2 separate regions of the Homo sapiens genome follow, and region 1 is linked to region 2. Evidence: fine-mapped expression QTL. A gene starts in region 2. The other region holds a variant in brackets. All regions are shown on one strand. Distances are from middle to middle. Region 1 holds the start of TXNDC12 (thioredoxin domain containing 12). Region 2 holds the start of KTI12 (KTI12 chromatin associated homolog).

Evidence for each region.
Region 1: its variant is fine-mapped to the expression of KTI12 in whole blood (TOPMed, PIP above 0.99).

Annotation. Positions count from the first base shown.
Region 1 is chr1:52,050,315-52,058,602 of GRCh38, forward strand. TXNDC12 (thioredoxin domain containing 12) reads right to left here and starts at 4,877. Exons shown (of 7, transcript NM_015913.4): 1 at 4,686-4,877. The coding sequence starts at 4,782. It overlaps BTF3L4 (basic transcription factor 3 like 4), which reads left to right and starts at 5,981. Exons shown (of 6, transcript NM_152265.5): 1 at 5,981-6,065. It overlaps TXNDC12-AS1 (TXNDC12 antisense RNA 1), which reads left to right and starts at 604. Exons shown (of 3, transcript NR_126385.1): 1 at 604-651; 2 at 1,470-1,535; 3 at 2,093-2,369. RefSeq lists silencers at 4,901-5,305, 6,166-6,405 and enhancers at 5,471-6,184, 6,185-6,896. The variant CACA/C (reference allele first, on the strand shown) is at 4,872.
Region 2 is chr1:52,030,500-52,038,831 of GRCh38, forward strand. KTI12 (KTI12 chromatin associated homolog) reads right to left here and starts at 3,311. Exons shown (of 1, transcript NM_138417.3): 1 at 1,604-3,311. The coding sequence starts at 3,262. The coding sequence ends at 2,198. All of the region lies in intron 2 of TXNDC12 (thioredoxin domain containing 12), which reads right to left. RefSeq lists an enhancer at 3,018-3,317.

The DNA of each region.
Region 1 (8,288 bases), 20 kb after region 2:
ATGGAACATCTGAAGGCAGTCCAATTTCCTAAAGTGTCACCTGTATAGCCACTTAATTTATGCCAGTTATCTGCAAAGTAAAGTCTCCCACATCAGCAACTCTTACCCTATAACATTAATTTTTTAAAAAAGAAAAGCAACCATTTCTAAACACAGCATTCAATCAGAATTTTCAATCCCTTCATCCAAAAATTGTTTTAATGAATGTAAGCTAAAGACATCTGAAAAGTATTATCCACCCCCTCCTAGCTGATGAAACCTAAATAACAAAAGGTCAAGCATCAGAGCTGGCAGCCAAGCCTCTGAAACAGGGAACACTGTACCTGAGACATAGAACATAGTGGCTAAATACTGATTGTCTCAGTCAAACAGACCTGCATTAGAATTCTTGTTCAGCCACTTACCATTTTCATAAATGCAAACTATGGCTAACAAAAACATGTATCCCATAGGCTGTTGTGAATGTGAGTAGAACACTGTGTGGGAGGTAAACACACTTCATATGTGTTAGTGCCAAATTTTTATTCCAGAGACTTGACAAAGTTATCCATTTTTGTTTCAGGCAGAAGAGCACAAGAACCACTCCCAATGACAGCTTTCTAGTTTCTCCTTTAAACTTTAGAGGAGTTTCTGCACTGAGAGACTGGAATGGTATGCTGGTTAAGGGCACTGGCTCTGGGATTTGTATTCCAGCTAGTCCACTGGACTCCTTTGCCTCATTTGAGGTTTTTTCATCTGTTAAGTGGGAATAATGATAAAAACATTGTCCATCTCATAGGGTTATTATGAGGCTTAGTCAATACATGAAAAATGCACACAACAGCACCTGGAGGATAGTAAATGTACAGTAAATATTGGTCACTACTTCTCCCCATGGGTGATGTACTCCAAATTTTTAGTCCATGGAGAACAATGTAATTATTTTGGAACTCTATAGAACGTTAGAGCTGGAAGAGATCTTAGGAAGTACTTCTAGTACAACTTTCTCATTGATTAATTGGTTGTCACGTAGGACCAGAACTAAATGGCCTGATCAGGATTACAATCCAGGCCTCCTAATTTATTTATTTATTTTTTTTGAGACAGAGTATCACTCTGTTGCCCAGGCTGGAGTGCAGTGGCACTATCTTGGCTCACTGCAACCTCCGCCTCCCAGGTTCAAGCAATTCTCCTGCCTCAGCCTCCCGAGTAGCTAGGATTACAGGCGTGTGCCACCACGCCTGGCTAATTTTTGTATTTTTTTTAGTAGAGATGGGGTTTCGCCATGTTGGCCAGGCTGGTCTTGAACTCCTGACCTCAGGTGATTGACCTGCCTCAGCCTCCCAAAGTGCTGGGATAACAGGCATGAGCCACCGTGCCCAGCCTGGGCCTTCTAATTTCTATTTAGTGCTAAGTCCACATCACTGTGCTGCTTCTTCTTAATGAAAACAGTAGAGATCATTCAGTCTCTCCTCTCTGTAAACCACCAGGCCATCGTCCGGAAACATCTGGGAAGAAATCCATCTCATTAAGACTTTCAGCAACCATTGCCTCAGGTAGCACTTTTTTGGAAGGTAGGGTAAGTGGGGTATAATCTACTTCCCAAGAATCCATACCCAAGAGATACATAAAACAAAAGTTTGAAATAGTATTAATTCCTTTTAGGGATTATTATTATTATTTCCATGGGGGAAATAATACTGGTTAATGTTTATTAAATATTTTCTAAGTGTCCGACACAATATTAAGTGCCTTTTGTTTTTTGATTGAATCCTCCCAACCCAGCCCCACTGCCCTAAGCTGCCCTTCTATGTGCTCCTGCAGCTACCTGGTATTTCTCTGCTTAAAGCACATATCATGCTGCCATGTAACTGTCTGCTTACTTGTCTTGGTATCTTACCAGACTGCAAGCTGAAAAAGGACAGGAATCACAATTATCATGTTTATCATTCATTTCCTCTTTCAACAAATATTCCTGAGCATGAACAAGACAGAAATAGTCCTGGTTCACTGTGGCAGATATGCCCTTCTTACAATGTGACCTCAACATACCTCCCATTGGGGGTGAGGGTGGGGGTCCTAATATTCCATTCCCTTGAATCTGCCCCTACAGGGTACTGTGGAAGTGATGCTATGTGCCTTGTAAGGCTAGGTGACAAAAATGCCATGCATTTCCACCTTGTTCTCTTATGGCACGCACTCTTGGAATCCAGCCTCCCATAAAGCTACTGTGAGGAAACCCATAGGAGCCCATGCGGAAAGATCACATGGAGAGGTAACCAGCTTAGCCAAGGCCCCAGTCATCATAGAACAGGGACAAGCCTTTCCCAGTGTGCCTTGTTTGAATTCCTTACTCACACAATTGTGAGCATAATAAAATGATTTCTTCATGCCCACTAAATTTTGGAGTGATTTATTACACAACAATGGTAACTGGAACAACCACACAAAGCTTAATATCTAACAAGGAATAAAAATACAAAATACCTGATTCCAAGGTATTACCTACACCTAACACAGTAACTTGAACAGAGCAAATTATTTGTTGAGTGTCTGAGGTAGTTATGATGCCCATTTTGCAGATGAGGAACGGAGGCTTTGAGAGTTAAGAAACTTGCCCAAGGCTACTCAGCTAGTGAGTGGCAGAACAAATTAAAACTCAGATCTAGGCCTGGCGCAGTGGCTCCCGCCTATAATCCCAATACTTTGGGAGGCCAAGGAGGGAGGATTACCTGAGGTCAGGAGTTTGAGATCAGCCTGGCCAACATGGTGAAACTCCATCTCTACTAAAAATACAAAAAAATACAAAAAAAAAAAAAATTAGCTGGGCATAGTGGCACATGCCTGTAGTCCCAGCTACTTGGGAGGCTGAGGCAGGAGAATCATTTGAACCCGGGAGGCAGAAGTTGCAGTAAGCCGAGATTGCACCACTCCACTCCAGCCTGGCAGAGTGAGACTCCGTCTCAAAAACAAAAGCAAACAAACAAACAGAAAAAACAGCAAAGAAAAAACTCAGATCTAAACCCACGTACCCAACACTCTACTCTTCTGTTACTCTCAGTACTTACAACTTTAAATATACAGTAGCTGGCTGGGCGCAGTGGCTCATGCCTGTAATCCCAGCACTTTGGGAGGCCGAGGCGGGCAGATCATGAGGTCAGGAGTTTGAGACCAGCCTTGCCAACATAGTGAAACCCCGTCTCTACTAAAAATACAAAAAATTAGCCAGACGTGGTGGCAGGCACCTGTAATCCCAGCTACTCGGGAGGCTAAGGCAGGAGAATCGCTTGAACCCAGGAGGCGGAGGTTGCAGTGAGCCAAGATCATGCCACTGGACTCCAGCCCGAGCAACAGTGTGAGACTCTGTCTAAAAAACAAAACAAAACAACAACAAAAAAAAACGGTAGTCTGTTTTAAAATGGGATTGTCAGTATTTAAAACATTCTGGCCTAACAGGATTTGTCATGCAGTTTCATCACTGAGATGGAAACCCACATATCACCTTCTCCAAAAAGCTTCTCCTGACCTTCATAATTCAAGTGATGCCAGCTCCACCAACCTCCCCAGCCTTTCTACTTCCTATTCCATCACAGTCTTATTGTTTTCCCAGCACTTGTTCCTAGTTGAAACTGTCTTATTAATTTGTTCATGAGTCTACTCTGTCTCTCTGACATGAATATAAGCTCCACCAGAGTAGGAACCTTGTCTGTCCTGTTTACAGCTATATCCCTAGTGCCTAGGACAGTGCCTGAAATATAGGAGGTGATCAAAAATTATTTACGGAATGAAGGAATGATTGCATTCAGGCAAAATGAATGCCCACCCAATCTTATTACTCACCAATAGATGTGAAAATAGAGAGGATAAGAGAAAACAAAAACAGAAGGATTGCAGCAGAATCATTCCATACAGTAAGGTCAGTGAAAAAAAAAAAAGGAAGAGGGGTTGGGATCCATGCTACAATTCATCTACTTAGAAAAGCATAAACTCTGAGTTCACAGACTGTCAGTCCAACTTTCAACTAAGTAAGGGCTGATGAGGAGAGAGGTGTTAAAACTTAGAATGGAGATGTAGGTAATGGATGGAGTAGGGGGCCACACCTCCTAACCTCCATTCATAACCACTGATCGCTCACTTACAAAAAAACTTCGCTGAACCACAGCAAGGACAATTGTTGGGGACCCTTAAACAGCAGACCTTCTACCATTCGCTTGGCTCTTCTTATGCACTAGATACAGCTACCTGGGATGCAGGTGCTGTTTCCCAAAGGCAAGCAAGTGGCAGTAACCTAGCTCTTCGCGGAAGAAGTAACGAGAGAAATCTTCAGACCCAGAACAGGGTCCTCTGCATATGCAGGTCCCCAACGGCTCTATTTCTCCCAGGTGGGAAGGTGACCGTTCCTCAGGACCTCCCAAGTGCTAGGCACTATGCTGGGCTCTTAACATGCTTTCCTTAATTTACGGGCCATTCCTTCCCCCCAATCCAATAATTTAGAGAGGCCTCAAGTACAACTTCTCCATTCCCCAGACCCGCTACTCTCTACCCCAAGAAATCTTCAAACTCCAGGAGCGGTTGGGGAAGATAAAAAGAAATCTGGAGTGGCCTAAGAGTTAGAATGGGAGGGGAACGGTGCTAGGGCAAGAAGAGATTATACTGGGATCAGTATAGTAAAGATCAGTAAAGAGAAGATAAGAACGCGGTCTGACCCTTTCCAAGCCCATTATGTCCATCAGAAGAGATGACGAGGAGCAGGAAACTGAAGCCCAGCAAACAGGTGGCCCCGAGACGAGGCCGCGTCTCCATGGCAGTAGGTGCGCGGGGCCACGGGGCTGAGCGGACGCAGGGCCGGAGTCCCAGCAGACGGTCCACACAGTTCGCCGAGCGCCGCTCAG[CACA/C]ACACCTCTACTTCCCAGATTTTTTTTTTTCAAACTCTGAAGGAAGTGATGTTAGACGGATGTGGGTGGTGCCTCCGGGGTCCGGTTTGGGATGGAGTGAGCTTAAAGGTGCAGATCACGTAGAAGGGTACGAGAGCTGTTCTCGAGCGCGAGTTGCTTTTCGTGGATTCTGGGTGTCCAGGTCCCGGGACGGAGCGGGAAAATGTAGGCCAAGATAGTAGGGGCGGGGGAGAGGTTCGGGAGAACCGTTGCTCCTCGCGTCCGCCACCCAGTCCAGCCCCTCCCCCCAAGAACCGCTGCACTTCCTAGTCAAAAGCAAATTATTGATTCGTGAGGTCAGTCGCTCCCAACAGTGGGCGGATTGCCCACTGGCCTCGGATTCTCCTTACCCCTCCACAAATCAAGACTGGACAACTGGATTTCATTGTTAGGTTCCTGCGAGGGTCTCTGAGGAGACCTGGCAAGCCTGTTCTGCGGTGCGTGGGCTCGTGCCGTGCAGACATGCACTTTCCCGCTGGAGAAGCTCTGTACCTTATTTTTCCTTGCAACCGCAAATCTTCTACTCAGGGATGATGCAACCAACTGATGCAAGCTCCAAGAAAACCAAACTTGGGACCTCTTATTGCAAAACTGACTTAGGTGGACTTAGGACACCAGGATATAAGTCACTGCAGGCTAAAGTGTAAAGCTTCTGGTTATTTTTCTTGTAGCTTGAGGATTTCTTCCCAATTTTTCCCCTTCGCTGTATAACAAACAGGTGAAAATGTCCGGTCTTTTTCTTCCTGGTACTAGTTGAGTCCTAAAGTCCGTACTTAATGCATAGCGAAAAAGCGACCTAACAAAAGTACACACCCAAATAAAAACATACCGACCACCCTTTTATTAGGTTCCCTAAAATTGTAGGCAGGGACACAACAGAACGCTCGGGAGACTGCAAGCCCCAGGATGCCGCGCGGCCACCTGCACCTGCCGCCACTAGCACTAAGAGGGATGCGCAAAGCAGGCGGGGCGTTGGAGTTCAGATGTTCGCTCCCGGGATAGGCTGCCCCGGAGAGGGAGAGGCGGGGTCGGCTGTATCACGTGGATCTGCTCCCGCCGCCGCCGCCGCCGCCGTCGTCTTTCTCTGTCTCGGCTGAGGCAGCCATCTTTCTCTTGCCGCGTGCTGGTGTTGGAGGACCCTCCCTGCTTCAGGTGAGACCCCCGGCGGTCCCGCCACTTCACGGCCATAGGCCGCTGCGCACGGTCTCCCCCCGCCCTCCCCTTCCGACACCCGCCAACCGCTCAGGCTGCCACTTCCGCCGTGGTGCGGCGAGCGGGGGCGGAGGCGGCTGGCTTGGCCTGTCGGTTACCGGCGGCGCAGCTGGGGGTCGGCACCTGTGGGAAGGTCCCCAGCACCACCGCCCCCTGTGGGAGCGAGCGGGCCCGCCCTGTTGCCGCCCAGACCCTGTCCCAGGAGGCAGGTGGACGCCCCTCCTCTGTTCCATTACTCCTTGCTCACAACAGCAGTGTTGTGTGCTTTGAGCTTTATACAGGCTCTCTGTTGTCATCTCATTTGATGCTCCCAGTCTACAGATAGGGAAGCTGAGGTTACCACTTCCCGCCCTTGAGTCCAGGGAACCGAACTCAGTTACAGCACTCTTCACCTTGTAATGGCAGTGTTTGTTTACAAGTCGGCGTCCCTTGCCCATCTTTATAACCCCCCTCCCACTGCCTGCTGACCGACAGGCTCAGTGTTGCACAGCTAGTGAATGGCGGTTTCAACTTCCGTTCCCACATTCTTGCAGTTTACCATAGTTGTCCCCTCGGGAGTGGTAACAATAGTTACCAGTAACTGTGTATCTTCTGTGAACCATTCCCTGTGGTTGATAATGTTTTAACCCTCAAAACAACCCTGTGAAGTACGTGGTGTTATACCTTTCCAAATGCAGGAGGAATACAAGTTCAGAGAAGAAAAATACCTTTCCCAACTGGTAGAACCTTGGTCTTTCTGATTCCAAAGCCTGTGCTTGTCTTAGAGAAACCCTACATAATAAAAAGTCAGGACTCAAGGTTGCAATTATTTTTATCTCTGTGTAAACATGATGTATGTGAAAGTGCCTACCACAATGCTTCTAACTTAGGCACTTAATAAATATAAACCTGTTTACACCCTTTCTTGAGTCCTTGAGAACAGTGCTAAAAGATCCTGGAATCCCCAAGGAAGAACTCATTAATCATGTGGCTTTAGGAAGTTACTTCTCCCTTTTGGGCCTAGGAAGGGACTTCTCCCTTCTGGGCCCTTATTTCCTAATCTATTAAGATGGGAGGGAGGGAACTGTTTCGTTTGTAATTTATACTTTGCTGGTGCTAGCAGATGTTGAGATGACATCACAGATAGGAATGATGGGTGCAATAAAGTAGAGGTTGATTGAGAATAGAGAATTAAACCAGGTGATCTTGGAGGTCTACTCCAGATTCTGAGCTTGACATCGCATAGACTGAGTCCAGTCCTCTTTCCTACTTGAATTCCACACACCACAACTTGCCAAGAAACAAAAGACTACTCTTGTTCCTCCCCTACTGCCTTGAGCTCTCAGTCTCCCTAAAATCATTTTTCTCTGAGATACTCCTTAGGAACAAAATTTCTCAATTCTGTTGTCCTGACCACCTGGAATGGAATCTGTTCTTTCATCTATACCTTGATTTGAAGAGTTAATTTTGTTCTTGCTTTTATTTCAAACAAGTCAAGACTTTGTCTTGGCATCCCAACCTCTGTCTGTTCTCTTGGGAATTGTTACTTCAAAATGCAGAAGAATCCCAAAGGGTTTACCAAGTATCTAGGTCTAATGTTTTTCCTTAGCCCCTTTTTTTTTGCAATAAATTCCTTTGGCTCTTTGTTAGTTCACTACACTCTCATGGCCACATTCCTTTGAGAAAAGTGAATGTTGGTCCTTTTCTGTGGATATTTGAGCATAGGAATTGGGATTTAAGTCATCAAATTTAAGTCTATGGCAGAGCTAAGATTGGCACACATTTAAGACTTCTTGTTTTGGACTCTAAACACACTTCCTCCTATAAAAGTGTTTTTAGCTGCTTCAGCATTGTGATACAGCGCTGAGCAGAGTGAAGAATCATAAATTCTAAATATTATTTGGGATCTGGACATTAGCCTTAAAGAAGAGATAGATATATAGGTTATTGCCTAAGGATAGTGTCAAAGTACAAAATGGTTAGTAATTATATAGTCTTTGATGCTGCTTTTTTTAATCTCTCAAATGAAGCAAACAGTATTTTTTTCATGTGAATGATGACTATACAGGGTTTAGAGAATTGGCCAAAGAAGATTTGATAACAACCTAGTCCCTTATTCCCTCCCTCACATCTCAGTAATGATTTGTTGATCTGCAGAACAAGTAAAACAAGACTTTTAATTTG
Region 2 (8,332 bases):
AAAGCCTTTTGAGTTTGCCTCATCCAGACTTCCATTTCACACATGAATCCTGTTTATCAGAAACAAAAGGTAGTATAGATTACCTGATGAGCAAGGAATATACCATCAACCAAGGCAGCCCATCTACCCTCTCTTTTAACAGCTCCATAGTTTCAGAGCATGCATGTTTTCGAATGTCTTGCTTTCTCTTTTCTCCCTGGCAAACATCTGTTTATCCTTCTAGAGCAGGGGTTGGCAAACTAGGGTCTGCAGGCCAAATCCAGCCCACCGTCTGCTTCCGTAGGGCCCATGATATGCAAATATTTTGTTGTATATTTTTACATTTTTCAATGTTTGCAAAGCAAATCTAAAGACTCCTTTGTGATATGTTAAAATTAATTGTAATTCACATTTCAGTGTAGTTTTATTAAAATACATTCATGCTTATTTGTTTACTTACCATCTATAAGTAGCAACAGCATTTGATGGTCCACAAAGCCTAAAACATTTACCATTTGGCCCTTTACTGACTTTATTCTACAGTGATGGTTCAAATGTTAACTCCTCTTAAAACCTTTCCAAAACCACCTCCCCCAACAGCTAGTTAGTCCTCTTCACCAGGTTTCCAAAGCATTTTGTCTTTTGTCATCATCCTCTGACCACCAGCCCATTTCATCCTATCTTTTTTTTTTTTTTTTTGAGATGGAGTCTCCTTCTGTCACCTAGGCTGGAGTGCAGTGGCGCGATCTCGGCTCACTGCAACCTCCGCCTCCCGGGTTCAAGCGATTCTCCTGCCTCAGCCTCCTGAGTAGCTGGGATTACAGGCACGTGCCACCACGCCCGGCTAATTTTTGTATTTTTAGTAGAGATGGGGTTTCACCATGTTGGTCAGGCTGGTCTTGAACACCTGACCTTGTGATCCACCCGCCTTGGGCTCCTGAAGTGCTGGGGTTACAGGCATGAGCCACCGCACCCAGCCTAATTCTATCTTTTACTTGTATTTCTCACCACATATCTCTTTTTGTTTGTTTTTCAAGACCCAGTTTCACTGCTGCCCAGGCTGGAGTGCAGTGGTGCGATCTCAGCTCACTGCAACCTCCACCTCCCAGGTTCAAGCGATTCTCGTGCCTCAGCCTCCAGAGTAGCTGGGATTACAGGCACACCATCACGCCCAACTAATTTTTGTACTGTTAATAGAGACGAGGTTTTGCCACGTTGGCCAGGCTGGTCTCGAACTCCTGACCTCGATTTTGGACTCCCAAAGTGCTGGGATTACAAGTATGAGCCACCACACCCGGCTTCTCACCACATATCTCAAGAGCAAAAACACTGTATCTAATTGGTCTTTGAAAATCACAGCCACTGTTAAAGTAGGTACCTACCATTTGTTCAATGAAATCAATGAAGAATGAAAGACAAGCTTACAATGATATTTGCCTTGAAATGCAGAATGAAGCAAAACAGTTACGGAAATTGTCATAATATAATTACTGTAGAGTAGCTCAAAACATCTACTCTCTCAGAACTATCAAAATACTACTTCACTTAAAGGCAGAACAATGACAAGTATACCTAAAATGTTACATGAAGTTACACAGGGAACATTAAGTGAAAGAGATTCCAGTAGACTATTTTAAAAGATTTTATTAGAGGAAATAATCTAGTAGATAACTTTCTTACTTCCACAAAAACAAAGTTTCTCAAGGATACAAACCAATGGATTTATCTGTGAACTCGGTCCCAGAATAGAAACTAGCAAAAAGTCAGTACAGTACTCAAAAAATACTTTTGTGGTATGAAAAAAGGGCAGGTGCAGATGTAGAACTGTACCATCTTCAGTTTCTGTTCACAATTGTTTTAAAACAATTCTCATCTATCCAGTCTGCTCTCCCACGCCTCAGATGAGGGAAGCCAATGGTCAATGCTCTGTGATAGCCCAAGTAGGATCCAATCTAGGTAATCCCTGTCCACCTTAGCTCTGTCCTCTGAGGGATTTGCCAGGTTGCACCACAATAGTTCTCCATTCTCTTTAGTCTGAACTTATGCTGTAAACCCAAGGCCTGGCACAGGGGTATGCAGGAAAGTTTGAGTGAATCAGTCACAACAGCTCTAGTACAGTACTGCATCGATATGCTCTGGAGACCTGCAGCCTATTTTTCCCAGAGAAATAAAGTGGAGTGGAGATCAGAAGCCATGGCTTCCCCCCTACCTCCTCTGGTCAGTGCAGGCTCTGGCTCAAATACTGAAGAAACATGTTGGCCAGTTGCGGCAAGTTCTCATTGTTGGGATGCATTTTAGTGTACGAAATAAACTGGCGACGAAGGCGACTCAGTTCTGCCATGGTCAAGGGCCGGGTAAACCGCAAGTGCTCTGTGGTACCAGGAAGCGTGAGCAAGTCCCCGGGGACAGCGCTCTTCTGCGCTTCCATCAATCCGGCCAGTACTTGACTCGTGACCTGGTCCAACTGGTGCAGAAAGCTGCCGGAGGCGAGGGGCTGGGACTGCGTAGACTGATGGGGTGGTGGGGCCCGGTTCTCAAACAGGGCAGAGCGGATCCCCGCCAGGGGCAACGGCTCCTCTAGGCCCACCAAAGTGAATAAAGGCCGGTCCCAGCGATTCCGAGAATCGGGAGCCTCAAAGCGCAGCGTTAGGGCCTCCAGGAGTTCGGGAGAGTAAAAGGCACCGGACCCATGCTTTGCAGATTTCTCTGAATCCGGAGTCACAAGAGCTGGAGACTCCGCAGCCCCGGATTCTTCTCGCTCCAGTTCCTTGGGTACGTCGGCCTGGGCACTTCCATTTACTACAGAGTCCGCAGTATGCAGTTCCCTGAGGACGCTGCTGCCCGCCGCCTGGGCTCTCCCGTCCTCCTCAGCGCGTGGCCGCCAACTCACACTGACGTTCCGGCCAGGGTTCTCGTTCGCGCCCGCCACCTGAGGTCCCGCGATCGGGCCGCCGGGCCGTACGCAGTAGACCAGGCAGAGCGGGGTGCGCGCCGCCCGTGCCAGGCAGTAGAGCTCGTAACGGAAACCTTTGATGTAGTTAAGCGAGTCCAGGATGACCACGTCGTGGCGACTCAGGCGCCGTTCCACGGAGGCTCGCAGAGCTCCACGCAATGCCTTCTCACGGGCAGAATCGCCGTACACCGCTGGGTCCTCTGCGCCCAGGACAGCTGCGTCGTCCACCACGTACACCGCGCGGCCCTCGGCAGCCAGCGCCACGCGCAACTCTTCAGCACGCCGGCTCTTGCCGCTGTACGGCAGCCCGCAAAACACCACGAGCGGCATCCTCTCAGGGAGCGACCATTGGCAACCGCGCTGCGCCAACTTCCGGGTTGTACGCGTCTCCGACGTAAGCCGGAAGTGCAAACTGCTCTTCCTGTCTCCCTTGACTTTTACAGACCCTCTTGTTTCTATGGAAACAGGAGTTCTACGCCAGCTAGGCCCAGGTTCAGCTTTCTCAGAAAGGAGATACAGAGACTATAATGGCATCAGTTATTTATGCCAAATGTTATAGGCCTCAGGAGAATGTGATCTTCCTGCAGCGAAAGACTGCCCGTCCATTTTATTAATAAGGCCTAAGGGGCATTAAATATTGTAAGCAATCAGCACTATATTTAGCATATAGAAGGCAATTAATAAATGCTGGTTCTCCTTCATTCCTCCTCTTAAACCTACTGGCTCTCAGTAAATGTTTATTCAATTACCATTTCAATCATTCAACATCTCCAAGGTTGGGAATTCAGAGATGAACATAAAACGCTTTCCCCACAAAAGATAAAAGGTCTGAATGGGAAGGATCAGGCGCCTACAATCAGAGTAATAAATACTATAATGGATAGATGCAGGTGAGGTTATAAAAGAACAGAAGGGAAAAACAAACTACCCAGAGAAATCACTGAAGACTTTATGTAGAAATAGTCATTTGACTTAGAACTTGAAAGACAAATAGGAATTTTTCTCCTTAGTAGGGTTGCCAGATAAAATACAGGATGCCCAGTTACATTTGAATTTCAGATAAACACCAAAAACATTTTTAAGCTTAAGTGTGTCCCAAATATTGCATAGACATATTTAAAATTATTTGGTGCTTATCTAAACTTCAAATTTAACTGGGCATCTTTAATTTATTATTATTATTTATTTTTTCTTTTTTAGAGATGAGGTTGTATGTTGCTAAGGCTGGTCTCAAACTCCTGGGCTCAAGTAATTGTGCCACCTCTGCCTCCCAAAGTACTGGGAATACAGGTGTGTGAGCCAAGGTGCCTGGCCTGCATCCTTTATTTTATTTTATTATTATTATTTTTTGAGATGGAGCCTCGCTCTGTCACCCAGCCTGGACCACAGTGGTATGATCTCAGCTCCCTGCAACCTCCACCTCCTGAGTTCAAGCGATTCTCCTGTCTCAGCCTCCCAAGTAGCTGGGACTATGGGTGTGCGCCACCATATCTGGCTAATTTTTGTATTTTTAGTAGAGACGGGGTTTCACTATGTTGGCCAGGCTGGTCTCAAACTCCTGACCCCAGGTGATCCACTGGCCTTGGCTTCCCAAAGTGCTGGGGTTAAAGGCATGAGCCACTGTGCCTGGCCATCCGTTATTTTTATTTGCTCAATCTGGCAACTCTATTATTGTAGGTTTGAGACCCAGAGCCATGAAACTGTTGGATCTCTTGTATAAACAGCAAGCACTATAGGATGGTAGGTGCAGAAATGTGAGTGTGCCTGTGCATGTGTGTATATTGTAGATGCACATATACTGGGGTCTTTGTATCTCTCTTGTACAGTATAGTAAAAAACATTCAAGTCTTGGCTCCTCCACTTACTAGTGTTGTAACTACTGGCAAATTATGTAACTTTTCTGTACTTCAATTTCCCCTTCTATAAAATAACAACTGCTATTTCACAGGTTTACCAATCTGTAGGTTGTTGTGAGGGTTAAATAAATGTAAACACAGGCCCGGCATGGTGGCTCGCGCCTGTAATCCCAGCACTTTGGGAGGCAGAGGGTAGATCACCTGAGGTCAGGAGCTCGAGACCAGTCTGGCCAACATGGTGAAACCCTGTCTCTACTAAAAATACTTTTTAAAAAATTAGTCGGGTGGGGTAGCGTGTGCCTGTAATCCCATTACTGAGGAGGCTGAGGCAGGAGAATTGCTTGAACCCGGGATGCGGAGGTTGCAGTGAGCCTAGATCGCACCACTGCACTCCAGCCTGGGCAATAAGAGCGAAACTCTGTCTCAAACAAAAAAAAAGTAAACACAGACCAGTGCTTAGCTTTCCCTCCCCTGCCCTGCCTTTTCCTCCTCCTTATGCACTGAATTGTCTGTGCATAAACTAAACCTACTTGAGACTTTACAGACTATTCAACTTGATTCTAGCAGGCAGTATGGTATACAGGTTTAAAGAGCAGGCTCTGAAGCCAGAGTGCTTGGGTCTGCCACTTGCTAGCTGTGTGCTCTTGGGCAAGTTATTTTAGTAAACTTAGAAAAAACGGTGCCTTACTTTTTTCATCTCTAAAATTAAGATAACAATAATACCAATCTCAAAAAGTTGTTGTGAGAGTTAAATGAGTTGATTTGCATAATTTAATGCCTAATGCACAGTAGCACTTAGTACAGCTGACCCTTGAACAACCCCAGGATGAGGGGCACTGACCCCTGACACCATCAAAAATCAGCATATACCTTTTGACTCCCTAAAACTTAACTATTAATAGCCTACTGTTGACTGGAAGCCTTACTAATAATATATTCAGTTAACACATATTTTGAATGTAATATTATATATTGTATTCTTACAATAAAGTAAACTAGAGAAAAGAAAATGTTATTAAGAAAATCTTTCCAGGAAGCAGGGGGGCAAAAAAGAAGAAAAAGAAAATCATAAAGAAGCAAAAATATATTTAGTATTCATTAAGTGGAAATGGATACTCATAAAGGTCTTCATCCTTGTCTTCACACTGAGTAGGCTGAGGAGGAGGAGGAAGAGGAAGAGGAGAGGTTGGTCTTGCTGTCTCAGGATGGCAGAGGCAGAAGAGGGTGGAAGGGGAGGTAGAACAGGCAGGCACACTTGGTGTAACTTTATGGAAATATAATTTCTGTCTGATTTTGTTGCTTTTTCATTTCTCTAAAAATGTTTCTATACAATACCAATCTTTTTTCTTTGCTTTAGTTTCAGGGCACATATCTTAGAAGGGTCCATGTTGTAAAATAAGTCAAAAGCAGCTCTAAATAATTAGAACCTTCTGCCAGATCTGTTTTCTGGCACTGCCTCTTCTACGTGTTTTTCCTCATCATCTGGCACTCATCTCCATCAAGTTATCTTCTGTTCATTCCTCTGGTTTGGTGTCTATTAGCTCTTGAATTTATCCAAGATCATATCTTAAAACCCTTTACCCCTCACCTTTTTTTGCCATATCCACAATCTCTTTCATGATTTTGATTATCTGTCATAAACCCTGTGAAGTCTTGTGTACATCTGGACACAGTTTTATCCAGCAGGAATTTATTGTTTCAGGCTTGATGGTCTTCACAGCTATTTCTATAACGACAATGGCATCTTCAACGATATAATCCTCCTAAACTTTCATGATGTTCTCTTTATTGCAGTTCTCTTCCATAGCTTTGACAATCTGTTTTCTAGAGAGTACTGTGTGTAATGAACCTTAAAGGTCCTTATCACCCCCTGATGTAGTAGCTGATTTAAATATTGTGTTTGGAGGCAAATAGACCACCTTTTTTTTTTTTTTTTTTTTTTGAGACAGAATTTCACTCTTGTTGCCTAGGCTGGAATGCAATGGCACGATCTCAGCTCACTGCAACCTCCACCTCCCAGGTTCAAGCAATTCTCCTGCCTCAGCCTCCTGATTAGCTGGGATTACAGGCATGTGCCACCACGCCCGGCGAATTTTGTATTTTTAGTAGAGACTGGGTTTCTCCGTGTTGGTCAGGCTGGTCTGGAACTCCCAACTTCAGGTGATCCCCCGACCTCGGCCTCCCAAGTGCTGGGATTACAGGCATGAGCCACTGGGCCCAGCCGCAAATAGACTTTTTAATTTGCCTTTGGTGCTGAACTCATGGGGCTCTGGGTGGCCAGAGTATTGTCCAACATCAAAAGAACTTTAAAAGGTAGTCTCTTACTGGCAAGGTACTTCCTGACTTCAGGGACAAAGCATTGATGGAACCAATCCAGAAAAAGGGTTCTTGTTGTCTAAGCCTTCTTATTGCACAACCTAAACACTGGCAGCTGGTGTTTATCTTTGCTCTTCGAGGCTGGAGGTTAACAGCTTTATAGACAAGGGCAGTTCTGATGACAAACTTGACTCAAACTCCTGGGCTCTGGTAATCGTCCCACCTCTGCCTCCCAAAGTGCTGGGTTTTTTTGCACAAAAGAGTAGAGTTAGCCTGTCTCTTCTTGCCTTCAATGTTGGTACTTGCTTCTCTTCCTATTTTTTTTTTTCCTTTTTAAAAACTGAAATAGGGTCTTATTCTGTTGCCCAGGCTACAGTTCAGTGGTGCACTCATGGCTAACTGCAGCCTCAATCTTCCAGGCTCAAGCAATCCTCCCACCTCAGACTCCTGAGTAGCAGGAACAACAGGTGTGTGCCACCACACCCAGCTAATTTTTGTACTTTTTGTAGAGACAGAGTTTCCCATGTTGCCCAGGTTGGTCTTCCTTACTATTAATGTCCTTTGTGGCTTTTTTTTTCCAGAGTAGGGTACCTTAATCTGCATTAAACACCTGTTCAGGCAGATATCCTTTCTCTTCAATGATTTTCTTAACGGTGTCTGAGAATTCATCTGCTGCCTCTTGGTCAGCATAAGCTGCTTCTCCTGTATCTTGTTTTTTTTTTTTTTGAGACAGGGTCTCACTCTGTCACCCAGGCTGGAGTGCAGTGGGGGGATCTCGGCTCATGCAACCTCCGCCTCCCAGGCTCAAGCGATTCTCCTGCCTCAGCCTCCCAAGTAGCTGGGATTATAGGCATGGACCACTACCACCTAGCTAGTTTTTGTATTTTTTGTAGAGACGGGGTTTCACCATGTTGGCCAGGCTGGTCATAAACTCTTGACCTCAAATGATCCACCCGCCTTGGACTGCCAAAGTGCTGGGATTACGGGCAACACTGCGCCCAGCCTGTCTTGACATTTTTTAAGCCAAACCTCTTTCTAAAATCAGCAAACCATCATTTGTTGTCATTAAATACTCCAGCTTTAGATCCTTCACCTTCTTTTTGCTTTAAGTTGCCATATAATGACTTTGCTTTTTCTCAAATCATATTAGAGTCAATAGGTATGCCTTTTTATAGTACCCATGTAAAAGCTACATATTATGCACATAAAAAGGCATTTGGCAAAAAGT